Linked DNA regions of Homo sapiens. The protein of the gene in region 2 purifies or fractionates together with the protein of the main gene of each other region. This does not show direct contact. Each region holds a gene or a part of one and is shown on either strand. Other genes may lie near its edges.

Region 1 (7,269 bases), on a different chromosome or scaffold from region 2:
CTGTCCTTATGCAACACATGACTGTGCTCTTTGACTCAGGCACTCCCAGCCTAGGAACCTGTCTTACAGAAATACTCCATTTTATGCCCATGCAAAGGAAATAGCTGCTACCCAGCTAAAAACTGTGTGTGTTTTATTAAAACCACACTAGGTTTGAGATCCTACAGACAATGAAGCCCTGGCTGATAAACAGCCTTCTGCTAGTGTGAACAGTTCACTTCCAAAAAATTAATACTACAGTCAGGGAGATACGTCCTTTTTATGTCAATAGAAGTGTTATTTGAAGATTTTTTCTACCATCTCATCAGAAACCATCCTCATAAAAGACCCCAAGCTGTGGAAGGTCACTCACCGAGCTGAAGCTAAAACCAATTGAGTGAATATTCACTTTGCCATAAATGCCCAGAGTGTCTATTTTCTCTGGGCCGATCCTGTGGCCATAGAGCAGAGTATGTTTTCCATTTACAGCCACCTAGAGAGATACAGAAGACAGAGCCCCCCCCGCCACCAAAAAAAAACAGTTAATAAATTAACTTATTATCCAAATTTAAATGTTTCCTTGCGTCCAGTTTTATACCTGTTCCCACAGGTCTCCACACACATGACCAAATGGTAACCGAAAGCACCCAAAACACTAGCAGTGCTTCCAAACTTCTTTTGAGTTCCTGATTTGATTAAGCACCAGGAACTGTCTCTCCCCAGACAAACAGGCAGTCATAAGTATATGTGCGTGTGCTTGTGTGCGCCTCTGCATACATGTGAGACATCTGGGTTCGAAGGTCGCCTGGAAGCCCAGGCACAGGTGCCCTGGAGATTGTGAACCCAGGTTAAAGATCTGCCTGCGAGCTCCCCACAACACTGTCCCTGGAGACCACCCATGTGGCAGACACTCAAAATCTGTTGTATTTGCTAAATAAATTAATATGGACAAGTTACCCAACATATTTGAATTCGGTTTTCTTATTCTGAAGTAGGAACAGTCTCTACCTCAACAGACTACAGTAAGATGACGAGAAAGTAGCTTCTGCAGGTCCTCGGCACGCTACGAGGCTCCTCCTCCCTCCCTCTCAAATGCCAGGTACCACGTTAGGTTATAGGCAGAAAACGCGAGCAGCATACAATATAGTCTCTGACTCAGGGAGCTTAAAATCCCATTGTGGAGGCAAAATAAACACGTAAAGCCAAAGCACAACTGTTAAAAACTGTGAAAAAGAATGATACAGACACGGGCTCAAAAGGCCAGAGAAGGGAGAGGTGAATGGAGTTTGGGAGATTCAGAAAGACTTTCGGGCAGGAGCAGTATCCCGAAGATCAGAAAGGATCTGCGCCAGAGGCATTCGAGTCTTCTCTCGCGTTGGTACATACCTCTACTGTGGGCAAGCTCCACAGGCCAGAGGGCCAGCAGGTGTAAGCTTCTGGGACCAAATTCAACCGTACACATACACGCTAGGTACAAGACACTCCATGAAGCCAGAGATGGAACTGACATCAAGGATTTCTAGGATCTCCTCTGGGTCTAAAATCTCATGATCCTACGGAACTGTCTTGTGGCAAGACTTGAATTTACAAAACCCTTCTGATTTCTTCGCTGGGATTGCCCTTGTTAGCTCTTCGGGTGGTGGCGGTTATATTATAACTTACCCTCCCATCATGAACATAATACTGTGTCAATTCGGAACTCAGCCCTGCTAGGAGAAATAGGATCTAATAAAAAGATCTGGTCACAGTGGACCATATTTCTGCATGGCAACAACTGGCTGGAGAGTAGTGGTGCCATACCTCACATTTAGGTGCCTTCCTGGTCCTTTTATGGAGAAAAACTACAAAGCCAAACAAACTATATCTCAGGTGTAGGAAATATAAGGCTGGGCTCACAAATGTGAAAAGCACCCCTGTGCACTCCTGCTCACTAATGAGGACTCAACCTGTCCCTCTCCAAAACCTACCTGGAATTTGTCCTTCAGCACCATAATCACGATCTCAAAAGACTTTTCTCTTTTGAAAGGCGTGTCATAGGTGATCTCTTCCCGTCCCCATTTTTCATTTATCAAAGTATTGCAAACAATGCAGCCGGCCCTTTTGAAACGAGGATTGAAATGAAAGGCCACATCGGCTCGAGGTTTCATGCTGCTGCCATTCTGCAGATCCACCTGGAATCTATATGAGGGAAGACACAGGGGCCCCATGAGTGCTCAGAAAGGAAAGCCACCAGTAAAGGACCAGCAGGCACTACACTCCAGGCCCAGTGACAAGGGACTGACCAATCCCTCCTCATTCATTCACTATGAGGCCTAAAGAGCTGACTGTCTAATCTTTTCTGTCTTCCTCAGTAAAATAGCCCCTGAGTTTGAACTGGGTCTGAATCTGCCCAGAATAAAAACCTACCTTTCCCAGCCTCCCTCGCAGCTAGGCCTGCCTGTGCAGCTAAAGCTCTGCTGGTAAGATGGAAGTGAAGTGCTCAGGGAAGGCTACTGGAAACTGCCTTAGAAGTCAGCAAGCACTTGCCTTTTGTCCAGCTCTGTTTCCCCGCAAACACCACATGCACCCATCCAGCTACCCAAAGCACAGAAGTGAGGGCTGGAAATCTGGCTGCCAAGGAAAACGGGAAAGGGGACCTTACCTCACCCTCAAGATAACAGAGTGGTGAGCTCGAAGGAGTCTACTTCTCTAACGACTTGAAGGAGTTAACTGAAAAGGCCTGGGCTGTCTCCTTGAGACTTAATTTTCACATCTTAAACCACTGCTCTTCAGGTGTTAGGTACACAGAGCTGAGCCCAACACTAATGATACCACAGCTTGTATCCAAAGCAGGTATTCAGTAAAACCATCTGAACTAGATCTGTAATGCTGTGGGAATGTCAGACTAAAACTAGACTGTCCCTGTCATCTGACCACAATTCCTTTCTTTAATGACATACCTAATTCTTTTTCTTTTTCTTTTTTTTTTTTGTCACCCAGGCTATAGTGCAGTGGCTCGATCACAGCTCACTGCAACCTCAAACTCCTGGGCTCAAGGAATCCTCCTACCTCAGCCCCCTGAGTAGCTACAACTACAGGCGCACACCACCAAGCCAGTTAATTTTTAAATTTTTTTTTTTTTTACAGATGGGGGGTCTCACTATGTTGCCCAGGCTGGTCTCAAACTCCTGGCCTCAAACAATCCTCCTGCCTTGGCCTCCCAAAGTGCTGGAAAAGTATGTTTAAGTCACCACATCCAGCTGATAGTTCTAATTTTTTATACTGAAATCAGACTTACAGCAATGAAATAAATCCCAATAACCTTTATTTAGTCATTCATTCCAATCTCCTCAGCACCTTGGCCAGGGCTGCTGATGAAAGCTAATTGGGCCTCAAAGTATCAAATGGTCTCTCCCGCCTTACTCTGTTATCATTCCACAATCACAAAAAGACAGCCTATTCATGCTCCTTCCTTTAGCACAGTGATTTTACCTGTCTGCGTCACTAGGAACATGCCCACGTATCACAATCAAAGTTCCAGGATCCAGCTGATCAGGAATGGTGCCAACAAACGGGATTACCTAAGAAAAAAAATTTAACAAATGTACGTTTACATAAACAAAATTACTTACTAAGCAATTACAACCCACACTCATTATTGATAGAGAAAAACTACACTTTTTAAGGCTGCACATAAATCTGCTCAGAATCCAGCATTTTCCAAGTCATCTTTCCTATTCAAACAGCTAGAAAAAGGAACTGCGGCCGGGCGCGGTGGCTCACGCCTGTAATCCCAGCACTTTGGGAGGCCGAGGCGGGAGGATCACGAGGTCAGCAGATCGAGACCATCCTGGCTAACACGGTGAAACCCCGTCTCTACTAAAAATACAAAAATTAGCCGGGTGTGGTGGTGGGCGCCTGTAGTCCCAGCTACTCGGGAGGCTGAGGCAGGAGAATGGCACGAACCTGGGAGGCGGAGCTTGCAGTGAGCCGAGATCGCGCCACTATGCTCCAGCCTGGGCGACAGAGCAAGGCTCCGTCTCAAAAAAAAAAAAAGGAACTGCATACCTCATGGCCAGGATATCTGCAATAGCTGCAAACCACTATGAGTTCTTTGGAAAGAGACACAAGGTAAATACTATTCATAGTATTTTGTATTTGGCTGAGAGTTTGTGAAGCAAAACTTCTGCTTAATATGATAATTCTAACAGAAAAAAAAAAAAAGACTTGTTGCAATGCCATGTCTACTCATTCCTTTTCCTACTGTTCCACTGCTGATCCCAACAGAAGGTTCGAGGCCACACTAGGCCCAAAGCCAATGCTGACGGAGACAATGACAAGCACTCACTGCCTCTGAAGGAAACTCCACGTTAAGCCACGCCCCCACACCTGGGATTCCAGGGCCTGCTCTTCTCTGCTGGACTCCCAGACTGCAACCCAGACTGCACTGTTAGAAACCAGAGAACTGCATGATCATGAGGATGAGTGGGTGCCTGTGGGTCTTCAAGACATGGCATCCACCTGCCGTGGACCAGTCCAGTCTGCAGGCGTGGACTCTGACAGCTGGCTCCACCCAGTATTCAGGTCTCAACCTGCACCCTCACTGCCCAGAACCCAGCCCTTTTTTTCTGGGACCTGCCACACTGCCAGATCTTGTCATTCCCCTTCCCCAGAGATGACTACACTGTCTTCCCAGTCCACTGGCTGGGGACCTGTGCTATGTGGCTGCCTCTCCTGCATCACAACCATCTGCCTCCATCTAGAGCATCTGACCAGGATGTACAGCCCACACACCGTTAAGCCTCACACTAAGCTCACTCAAATTACGATGTGCATGGTAAAACCTACCCAAGGTACTTCTGATTGTCAAGAAATAAGAAATAAAATAAGACGGGCCACAGAAAAGTGGTTATAAATTGGTGGCTCCTAAACCGAAATCGCCTTGAGGCACAGCCTCCTCTGTGGAGCCTTCTTCAAGCTCCCTGGGCTGCTGAGTCAGCCCCTCTCAGAGGGTTCATGATAGCACTTTGGATTCTGTTTGTTTGCATGTAGCTTTGCCTAGACTGTGAGCTGCATGGGGCAGAACTGGCTCATCACCTTTACCTCCCCAGGACACAGGTCAAGAGACGATCGGTAACTGCATGGTGAATGAATGAACTCTCACCTGTCTGGAAAGTGGGCTCTGGCAGGCCTCACACATACAGAGGAGAGGCAACAAAGCAGCTGCTGAACCGCAAGCTGAGCCCACAAGCTCTCTGTTGCCTTAGGCAATAAGATGAGAAATTACGGAAGCCAATTATCTATTTGTTGTCATGGCAATTGCTAGGAGCAGGGTGGGAGGCACATGACACCAGAAAACAAAAAATACAACAGACAGTGTAGACTGGGGCTACAGCTGCACATCAGAGTATCTGATTTTGTGTGTAGAGAATGGGGAAGGACCTACATCCCTACATTGATCTTTTGGGTCACAGCTGGTTCCAAGAATATATAGCAGCAGGTTTCATAGCGTTAATCTCTTAATAAAATGAGAAGTTTTTATAACATCAAATTTCATCTTAAAATTATCTTTATGCAGAATATTTAATAACACAAGTTAGTAATATAAGTGAGAAAGTAATCTATAGAGCCATATATAGTATGATCTCAACTAAATAAATATAAACATTAAAAAGAAAACCTTGCTAATACACACTGTATCCTGTATCAAAATATGCCATATACCCCATAAATAGATATACCTACTACATACTCAAAAAAATTAAAAATTAAAAAAAGAAAAAGAGAAACACTAAAGAAATCAGACAAAAATGATAACAATAGTTTTCATGGGGGATGATGGGATTTTAATTTTTTTCTTCATATATTTTCATACTTTGCAGATGTCTATAATAAGCATCGATATTTCTATAGCCAGAAAAATATTTTTAATTATATGTTTCATTTTAGTGTTGGAAAGAGCTTTTTGAGACAAAACAATCTATTCCCATCACTTTTTTTTTTTTTTTTTTTTTTTTGAGACAGAGTCTCACTCTGTCCCCCAGGCTAGAGTGCAGTGGCGTGATCTCAGCTCACTGCAACCTCTGCCTCCCGGGTTCAAGCGATTCTCCTGCCTCAGCCATCCAAGTAGCTGGGACTACAGGCATGTGCCACCATGCCCAGCTAATTTTTTGTACTTTTAGAGAGATGGGGTTTTGCCATGTTGGCCGGGCTGGTCTGGAACTCCTGGGCTCAAAGTGATCCTCCCAAAGTACTGGGGTTGCTTTGGGAGGTAATGAGCTTTGGGAGAAGCTACCGCACCCGGCCCCCATCACTTCTAATACCTTGTTCACAACTGTTTATAGGTTGTTCCAGTTTGAGAAACAACTATGCTAAGAACGGTGGCCACTTGCTGCTTTAGTTTTCTGGGTTCATCATGCCTTCTACTTCAGAAAAGATCCTGCATTACTTCAGTAATACTTTTTTTTTTTTTTAACTATGAGACACAGTGCCCTGCCGCTGACTCATTTAACCCACGACTATGTGGCTTCTGTGAAAACGGAGGACATACATTGTTTTCTAGGCTACTCCAAGCTACTTTGGTGATTCACAGATCATTATTAATTTACATTTAAAAAATTAAAATACAGATCTGATCACACTGGAGACAATACCACAAGCTTACGCCACAGTCAGGTTTGCTGTTATTTCCCAAAACACCCTTGCTGATTCATATTGCTTTGCCTTTTTGATGATTAAATGCAAGGCTCTCTATTAGGCAGACTGCAGCTTGAAAGAAGCCTAAGAGTCAGACACCCAGGAAACATAACAGACACCCAGGAAACATGGAGTGAAAATGTGATACTCTATTTGGCTGCTGAAAATTGGTATCCCTTTCCATATCTGAAAATCCCCTAGCTTATGAACATTAGACCTCATCTAGACTGCAACAAGGTAAGAGCAGGTGACAAAACTGCCCATTAGAACTTCCAGCTCAGCTTTTAAGTAAGAACCAGTGACAAGAAGAAGCCACAATGACGCAGTATTCACTCTGGCAAGGGGGCAGCCGCTATATCTGGGTTTGGAGAAAGCTACATCTGGGGTCAAAGGCAGCTACATCCGGGGTCAGGGGCAGCTATATCGAGGGTCAGAGGGAGCTGCATCCAGGGTCAGAGGGAGCTACATCTGGGGTCAGAGACAGCAGTGGCATTGGTAGAGTAGCAGAGACACAGTACCATCTGTGTCCAGTGGTGACAACAGATGCCTCTTCATGGGAACCGTCCTACAGTATGCTTGTGTATCTGTGGCTACCTATTCTCCAAGCCTGGTTCT
Region 2 (8,157 bases):
CTTGCCAATTATGAAGGGTGTGGCCTCCCCCAAAAAGTTGGAGCAGAGATGGCCACCCAGTGACTGGAAGACTCCTTTTTTTTTTTTTTTGAGATGGAGTCTCACTCTGTTGCCCAAGCTGGAGTGCAGTGGCATGATCTTGACTCACTGCAACCTCTGCCTTCCAGGTTCAAGCAATTTTCCTGCCTCAGCTTCCTGAGTAGCTGGGATTATAGGTGTGCACCACCACGCCCGGCTAATTTTTTTTTTTTTTTGAGACAGAGTCTCGCTCTGTTGCCCAGGCTGGAGTGCAATGGCGTGTTCTCAGCTCACTGCAACCGCCGCCTCCCGGGGTTAGAGTGATTCTCCTGCCTCAGCCTCCTGAGTAGCTGGGATTACAGGCGTGCGCCACAATGCCCGGCTAATTTTTGTATTTTTTAGTGGAGACGGGGTTTCACCACGTTGGTCAGGCTGTCTCGAACTTCTGACCTCGTGATCCGCCTGCCTTGGCCTCCCAAAGTGCTGGGATTACAGGCGTGAGTCACCGCCCTGGCCACACCTGGCTAATTTTTGTATTTGTAGTAGAGATGGGGTTTCACTGTGTTGTCCAGGCTGGTCTCAAACTCTTGACCTCAGGTGATCCACCCGCCTCGGCCTCCCAAAGTGCTAGGATTATAGGCGTGAGCCACCGCGCCTGGCCTGGAGACTCCTTTGTGTTCCCCAGTCTCCACCAACCAGTAAATACATAGTGGTGATGTCGCCATGGAGCCCGTGCACAGTACTCCCCTGGGGGCTGCACTCAGTGCTGGTGCTGGGGCATATAACCTACTCTCTGGAGAGCCCTGCGGGATGGTCTATGAGCTTTTCTGCCAGCAGGACCTGCAAACGCGCAGGTGCAGCCCCTCCTTCACCCTGCGATCTGAGAGATGCCATCAAGCACCGTGCCTCTATCCTTATCCAAAGCTGAGGCCTCTGGACTTAAATTTCAGGCCCCCATTTCAGACCCAACCTCTGGACCTTGAATTTTATCCACCACTCTCCTTACCCTCCCAGTGGGGGGATGGCTTTGATGATGCATCCTTGTTTCCTTCTTCCCTCCCATCCCTATCTCTTCCTCTTCCCTCTCCCCACTCCTCTCTTACACCTATTTTTCAAAAATTAAAGAAAATGTTTTTTAAACTGAAGCCCAAGAAGCATTGATCCTTCATGTATTTTTGCCTCCTCTTCCCCCATCCTTCCCCATGCCTCCCACCCTCCTCTATGTCTCTCACTTTCCGGTTTTTCCTCACCCCTCTCCCAACTCTCCTCAACTGTTCTTTTCCCTTGATTCTGGATCCCTTCTTTCTTCCTCACCTTCCTCATATCCCCTCACCCTCCTCATATCCCCTCACCCTTTCCTGTGCTTAGATGCAGGCTACAAGCTGCTGTGCATGGCACTGGGTCTGGCTGATGCCTACATGCTCTCAGAAGGCTGCAGGTTTGCTTGAGACATCTGTGGCCCCCATGCTGTGTCGCTGGGCCTAGGTGGAGGCGTGGTGAAGCTGGAGGGAAAGCTGGCTTTGCTTGGTGTGGAGGGACAAGGGTCCCCGCCTCAGCACACCTACCACCAACTGGTGCCAGGCAACCAAGAGGCAGCAGCCTGGGCCAGCCAGGACGGCTTGGTGGCATATCTGGATGTCAGGCACTTGGAACAGGTGCTGGGGGATCTGAAGGATGTGAAGGGCCAGGTCTGAGATCAGCCACTTCCCACTAAGAGGCCCCTCTATCCTGCACCCCAGCAAACACATGGAGCTCTGTGTCAACTTTCCAGGCTGTAGAAGTGGGCCATTCTTTGTGTGTATGTGTGTAGTAAAATATATATAACATAAAATTCAGGGACATTGAGTACATACACATTGTGCAACCATCAGCACCATCCATCTCCACAACATTTTCATCTTTCTTTCTTTTTCTTTGAGACAGAGTCTCGCTCTGTTGCCCAGGCTGGAGTGCAATGGCACAATATCGGCTCTACTAAAAATACAAAATTATCCAGGCATGGTGGCGCATGCCTGTAATCCCGGCTACTCAGGAGGCTGAGGCAGGAGAATCTCTTGAACCTGGGAGGCAGAGGTTGTGGTGAGTTGTGCCACTGCACTCCAGCCTGGGCAACAAGAGCAAAACTCCATCTCAAAAACAAAAACAAAAACAAAAAACCTAGATGTTTATGGTTAAGGAAACAAATTAATAATAATAAAAAAGATAATATCGATTCTTACAAAATACAGTAATTAAGAAAATTAATCCTTTATCACAAACTTTTGTAGCAGAGCACATCTCTCCATATATACAAGCATTATACCGAGGGTGAATGTGTTCCTCCTCTTACTTTTTTTTTTTGAGACAGAGTTTTGCCGGGCACAGTGGCTCACGCCTGTAATCCCAGCACTTTGGAAGGCTGAGGGGGCGGATCACGAGGTCAATAGATGGAGACCATCCTGGCCAATATGGTGAAACCCCATCTCTACTAAAAACACAAAAATTAGCTGGGCGTAGTGGTGCGTGCCTGTAGTCCCAGCTACTTGGGAGGCTGAGGCAGGAGAATCACTTGAACACGGGAGGCGGAGGTTGCAGTGAGCCAAGATGGCACCACTGCACTCCACCCTGGTGACAGAGCGAGACTCCGTCTCAAAAAAAAAAAAAAAAAAAAGAGAGACGGAGTTTCACTCTTGTTGCCCAGGATGGCATGCAGCAACACGATCTCTGCTCACTGCAACCTCTGCCTCCTGGGTTCAAGTGATTCTCCTGCCTCAGCCTCCTGAGTAGCTGGGACTACAGGCACACATCATTGTGCCCAGCTACTTTTTGTATTTTTAGTAGAGACGGGGTTTCACCGTGTTGGCCAGGCTGGTCTCGAACTCCTGACCTCAGGTGATCCACCTGCCTAGGCCTCCCAAAATGCTGGGATTACAGGTGTGGTGAGCCACTGCGCCTAGCCCCTCCTCTTACTTTGGGGAACATCCTACTCTGTCTATGGAGCAGCTGTTGTTTCACCACTTTACTTTCTTAATAAACTTGCTTATACTTTGCACTGCGACTCGCCCTGAATCTTTCTTGCATGAGATCCAAGAACCCTCTCTTGTGGTCTGGATTGGGACCCCTTTCCTGTAACAAATGCATTGGCTGATAGGAGAATAAAGAAAAAAAAAGAGGAAAAACTAGAGTAACTTCTCTACATAATCATATTATATGACCGTTTTGTTAACCATGATAACAGTTAACAAAATAATTTTCTTATGTCTAATTCTCAGTCCATGTCTGTATGTCCCAAAATGTCTTTCACAGCTGGTTTGTTCAACCATTCAATGAAGGACCAAACATTGCAGTTGGTTGTTATGTATCTAGTCTCTCAATCTTGATCTTCAGACCACCTTCAGCCCATCTCACCACATCCGTCCCAAGCCCTTTGAGCCAGCCAACCCCAACCTGCCATGTACTTTACAAAATGCTCCTTTTTTTTCCACAGTCGACTGCTTCTCTGTCCCTGGAGCTCTCCCCTTTATTCTCCAAGGTCACCTTGAGCACATCCTTCTGCTCCGTGAAATCCATTCTCCTCTCCCTTTCCCTCCCTCTGAGCTTAACCAGCTGCCACCGCAGGCTTCTGCCTTTCTTCACAGTGTGGCCAGAACTCGGTTCTGCCTGCTAGCAGAGGGCAGGGCCGCTGTCTTCCTCTCCTTGCAGCCCCCAAGCCTAGCACATGCCTGGCATCTAGTGGCAGCACAATAAGGAACCTGATGAATACTCCTTTCTTCTGCTCTCCGCTCCTCCTCCACAGCCTGCCAGCCATGGTCAGGAAGAGCAAGATCCGGAATGGGCTTGGTGTGTCCCGCGGGAAGGCCGTGATCCTGGAAGATGCTTCTCAGCCCAGCCCGGATCTCCTTCCTTTAGCTCTAGAGACTTCTTTCATTCTTTGTGTACACACATACACTAAGACTCAGGAAGTGGTTCTTGAGGCAGGACCTTAAGAGCCCAAGGAGTGGGGCCGAGGCTGGAGGTGTGGGGGTGTGACGGCCGGTCCTACTCTCCGGCCTGTTCAGATCAGCTCCTTCTGGGGACCACCCCTGGCACACAAGGGAGGGAGGCAGCTTGATCCCCCTAGCCCGCTTCCAGCCCTCACCTGGCTTTGTCTTCTGGGATAAGACGGGGAAATCCAGAGGATGTAAGCCTCTCCTGCCTTCGTGTCTTCCCCCAAGCCCTCGCTATCACAGACGGATGCAGGAGCTGTCTGGGAGGCTGGAAGCACAGACCTTGTCAATCCTCCCCCAGAGGGCGGGACCCGACGCGGACGTGTCTTGATTGACTGGGTAGCGTGGCTTCGGGGAAGGGCTTCCTCCCCTTTTCTCAGACTAGGATCCCTGGAAAATGGAGAAGCTGTGCTAATAGAGGGGGGCCAGAAATCCCCACTCTAGAATGCTGTAGAATGTTGGGAGACACCCAGGATGTGAGCCAGGGACTTTCTGGAAGTGTTTGTTCTGGCCCCACCCGACCCCAGGCAGTCCCCAGCTGTCTGCACAGTCGGATGGGGAGGGGGCTTGCACAGAGTTGGAGCCAGAGGAGAGAGCTGGCTCATCCCCTACGGTAGGATGGGGAAACCTCACAGACCACATTGTCACCCGGCCTCAGCTCTCCGCCCCGGCGCTCAGAGGGTAACTCTCACCCACCTCGTCCGCTTCTCTGAACCAGAGTGACCCAGGCTGCGCTCCGCCCCGCTCTCCTACCCCGAGTTGGCACGGAGGTATAGCGCCAGAGGGGGGCCCCAGGCGCCCCGAGGTCTTGCCCTTGCGGCTTTCCCTTTGCGGGGGTGGGCGCCTTCTTCCGGGTAGGGGCCACGTGGCCCTGGCCGGGCGGGGGGCTCGGCCCACCCCGCGCCGGGCCCAGTGACTCAGGCCGCAGCTGTTACCGCGTCACATGAGGGAGGCCGGCGGCCACTCGGCGGGGGAGGGGACCGTGGCTGGAGCCCGGGGCGGGGCCGCGCGGCAGGCGGGGCGGGAGCCGGGGGGCGCAGCTAGAGAGCCCCGGAGCCGCGGCGGGAGAGGAACGCGCAGCCAGCCTTGGGAAGCCCAGGTGAGGCCGCGGGGACCCGGCGGACTTCGGCGCGGGCTGGGAGAGACCACCCGCAGTCCCTTCCTCCAGGGCTCGCCCCAGGCCCGCGGAGACTCGTCCGGCGCTCTCCAGCCGCCCTGGAGCAACTTTGCTTCGAAGTTCCCTGGGCCCGGGCAGGGTGTGGCGGGGGTGCTGGCTGCACTTTTTTTTTTTTTGGTGGGCGGGGAGGTCAGAGCCCAGGGGAAAGGGGCTGGGGCGGGGGTCGGGGTTGGGCTGAAGACCGTTTCTCCAGGCTGGGTGTTGGGTGGGGAAAGGGTGTTTGACGCCCGGAGACTGGCGGGCCGAGGGTCGGCGTCAGGCTCAAGCCCCTGCCGGCGCCCTTGGATCTGTCCTGGGCCCCAGAGGCGGCGGGGCGGGGTCCGGGCTTCGCGGCCGTCGCCCCCACCCCTCTCCTGCGGGTAAAGAGGGGGCTGGGAGACGTGGATCCGACCGCGGGTTTCCGGGTGGGAGGGGCCGGGAATCGGGGCCGTGAAGGGAAGCCCTCGAGGGCCGGCCGGGAGCCCGGAAACCGAGGTCCCCCTTCGGCCAGTTTTAATCCCCCCGCCCTCCCCTCTGCCCCAGGCCCGGCAGCCATGGCGGTGGAAGGAGGAATGAAATGTGTGAAGTTCTTGCTCTACGTCCTCCTGCTGGCCTTTTGCGTGAGTGGCGAGGGGTCCTGGGGGGCGCGCCGGCAGGGTGCGGGGAGACCTGGCTCCACAGTGGTGAGGGCTGAGGGAATGAGAATTAAGGCAGCTGGAGACCAGATGTGGAAAGAAAGCCAGGGAAAGACAGCGCAGCCACTCCCTCCTCCAGTTTTCCTGGACACCTGAGGCTTGTTTCCACCGAGAATGGCCATCCTGGGTGTGCAGCAACCCCTACCCCCATCCCTCCTGGCCCTTCCTGTCTGGTGACCCAACCACTTGTGATATGGGGCAGTGGGGCAACCAGCCAACCGCCTGATGCTATCGCCATGGGGCTTCCCTTCGCTCTCCCTTCTCCCCTCTCTCCCTCCCCAACCCTCTCATCCCTGTCCAGCCCCTCTCCCCCTTTCCCTCCTCCCAGCGCTTGGGGGTGAGGAAGGGCTCTGCCCACTTCAATTTGCTCCTGCCCTGGGCTCCTGGCTTGAGAGGCTACTGTTTGTCTAGGGAGGGACACATCACTCTTGCTCCCTTTTCCTCTTCCCTTCTCCTGGCCTAACTGGCCAGAGGAACCTTAGTCACAGCTGATGCGCGCGTGGGATGTGCACTGGAGGATAGTGAGGGGGCAGTTCTGGGAGAGAATTGAGCTGGGAGCCCTGGAGGCCTGTAGAAAGCATTATTCTAGGTCAGAAATACGTGTCTTGAGGTCAAGGCTTTCTGGGAGGTTTTTGAATTTGGTCATGTCCCTGATTAAAGAGCCGGGAGGGGATCAGGGGAGGTAGGGGCAGGCAAGGATGGGTCATCCCCCTACCCCACAGCCAAAGAAATTCCCTAGAGGTGTGAGAATCTCTCTTCCGGATGGGGTCAAGTCTGTGTCCTAGGTGTACCCCCTGCCCTCCACCATGGAGGGCCACTGTGTTGTGGATATGGCCTAATCCTCACCTGATTTTCTCTTAGGCCTGTGCAGTGGGACTGATTGCCGTGGGTGTCGGGGCACAGCTTGTCCTGAGTCAGACCATAATCCAGGGGGCTACCCCTGGCTCTCTGTTGCCAGTGGTCATCATCGCAGTGGGTGTCTTCCTCTTCCTGGTGGCTTTTGTGGGCTGCTGCGGGGCCTGCAAGGAGAACTATTGTCTTATGATCACGGTGAGTTGGGGGCGGGACCAACATGGGCGGTCTGGGACTGCCAGAGCAGCTTGGTTCGGGCTCAGGAAGGTGGGTGAGGTGGGTGGGTGAGGAAGACCTTTGTGAGTGTCCAGGGACCGGCTGTGCCAAAACGGGCCCCTGTAATGCATAGACTCCAAACTTGACTTCTGTCCTTTGCTCCTGCAGTTTGCCATCTTTCTGTCTCTTATCATGTTGGTGGAGGTGGCCGCAGCCATTGCTGGCTATGTGTTTAGAGATAAGGTAAGCAGGGAATAATGGGAAGGGCCTGCCTCAGCCGGGTCTGGGACCCTGGTGCTTGAATTCTGACTGCAACAGTGCTCCTCCGTACTCTCAGGTGATGTCAGAGTTTAATAACAACTTCCGGCAGCAGATGGAGAATTACCCGAAAAACAACCACACTGCTTCGATCCTGGACAGGATGCAGGCAGATGTGAGTGGGGTTGCTGGGAGCAGGGGTGGTGGGAATAGAGAATTCTCATCTCCAAGGCTGGGTGTGGTGACTCACGCCTGTAATCTCAGCACTTTTGAAGGCCGAGGTGGGCAGATCACCTGAGGTCAGAAGTTCAAGACTAGCCTGGCCAACGTGGTGAAACCCTGTCTCTACTAAAAATACAAAAATTAGCCAGGTGTGGTGGTGAGTGCCTGTAATCCCACCTACTCAGGAGGGTGAGGCAGGAGAATCGCTTGAACCCGGGAGGCGGAGGTTGCAGTGAGCCGAGATTGAGCCACCGCTGGGCACTTGTCTGGGCAACAGAGCAAGTCTCTGTCTCAAAAAAAAAAAAAAAAAAAAAAAAAGAATTCTCATCTCCATATTGAAGGTGAAGGTTCACTTAACAACCTTCTTCTCCATATTTCTTCCCTCCCCCAGTTTAAGTGCTGTGGGGCTGCTAACTACACAGATTGGGAGAAAATCCCTTCCATGTCGAAGAACCGAGTCCCCGACTCCTGCTGCATTAATGTTACTGTGGGCTGTGGGATTAATTTCAACGAGAAGGCGATCCATAAGGAGGTAGGGAGGAGACTGTGTATGGGACTTGGGAAACCTGGGAAATGTTTTAGAATGCAAGAGACCCAGGATGGAGGTGGACAGGGTCAGGGATGGGGAGGGGATCTGGAAATGCTAAGGGTGGGGTGAAAGGTACAGGGGCAGGGAAGAGACTGATGGACCAAGGGAGGGGGTTGGGGTGGGAAGTTTCTGATGGTGCTTTTGTCCTTTGTGCCTGCCACCTTCAGGGCTGTGTGGAGAAGATTG

The links. The genes of interacting proteins can lie anywhere in the genome.
Region 1: the proteins of CD63 (region 2) and LGALS8 purify together in Homo sapiens (affinity purification with mass spectrometry; 3 studies listed by BioGRID and IntAct, with this or other methods). This does not show direct contact.

What each region holds. Positions count from the first base shown.
Region 1 is NC_000001.11:236,533,767-236,541,035, reverse strand, and holds part of LGALS8 (galectin-8), read right to left. Parts: intron 3,540-7,269; coding exon 3,451-3,539; intron 2,158-3,450; coding exon 1,947-2,157; intron 473-1,946; coding exon 353-472; intron 1-352.
Region 2 is NC_000012.12:55,725,878-55,734,034, reverse strand, and holds the start of CD63 (CD63 antigen), read left to right. Parts: upstream 1-5,025; 5' UTR 5,026-5,082; exon of another isoform or gene 5,083-5,239; intron 5,240-5,328; exon of another isoform or gene 5,329-5,519; intron 5,520-5,680; exon of another isoform or gene 5,681-5,682; 5' UTR 5,683-5,693; coding exon 5,694-5,759; intron 5,760-6,134; exon of another isoform or gene 6,135-6,171; intron 6,172-6,195; exon of another isoform or gene 6,196-6,423; intron 6,424-6,695; coding exon 6,696-6,884; intron 6,885-7,070; coding exon 7,071-7,145; intron 7,146-7,239; coding exon 7,240-7,335; intron 7,336-7,773; coding exon 7,774-7,914; intron 7,915-8,138; coding exon 8,139-8,157. UniProt on the Homo sapiens protein: Functions as a cell surface receptor for TIMP1 and plays a role in the activation of cellular signaling cascades. Plays a role in the activation of ITGB1 and integrin signaling, leading to the activation of AKT, FAK/PTK2 and MAP kinases.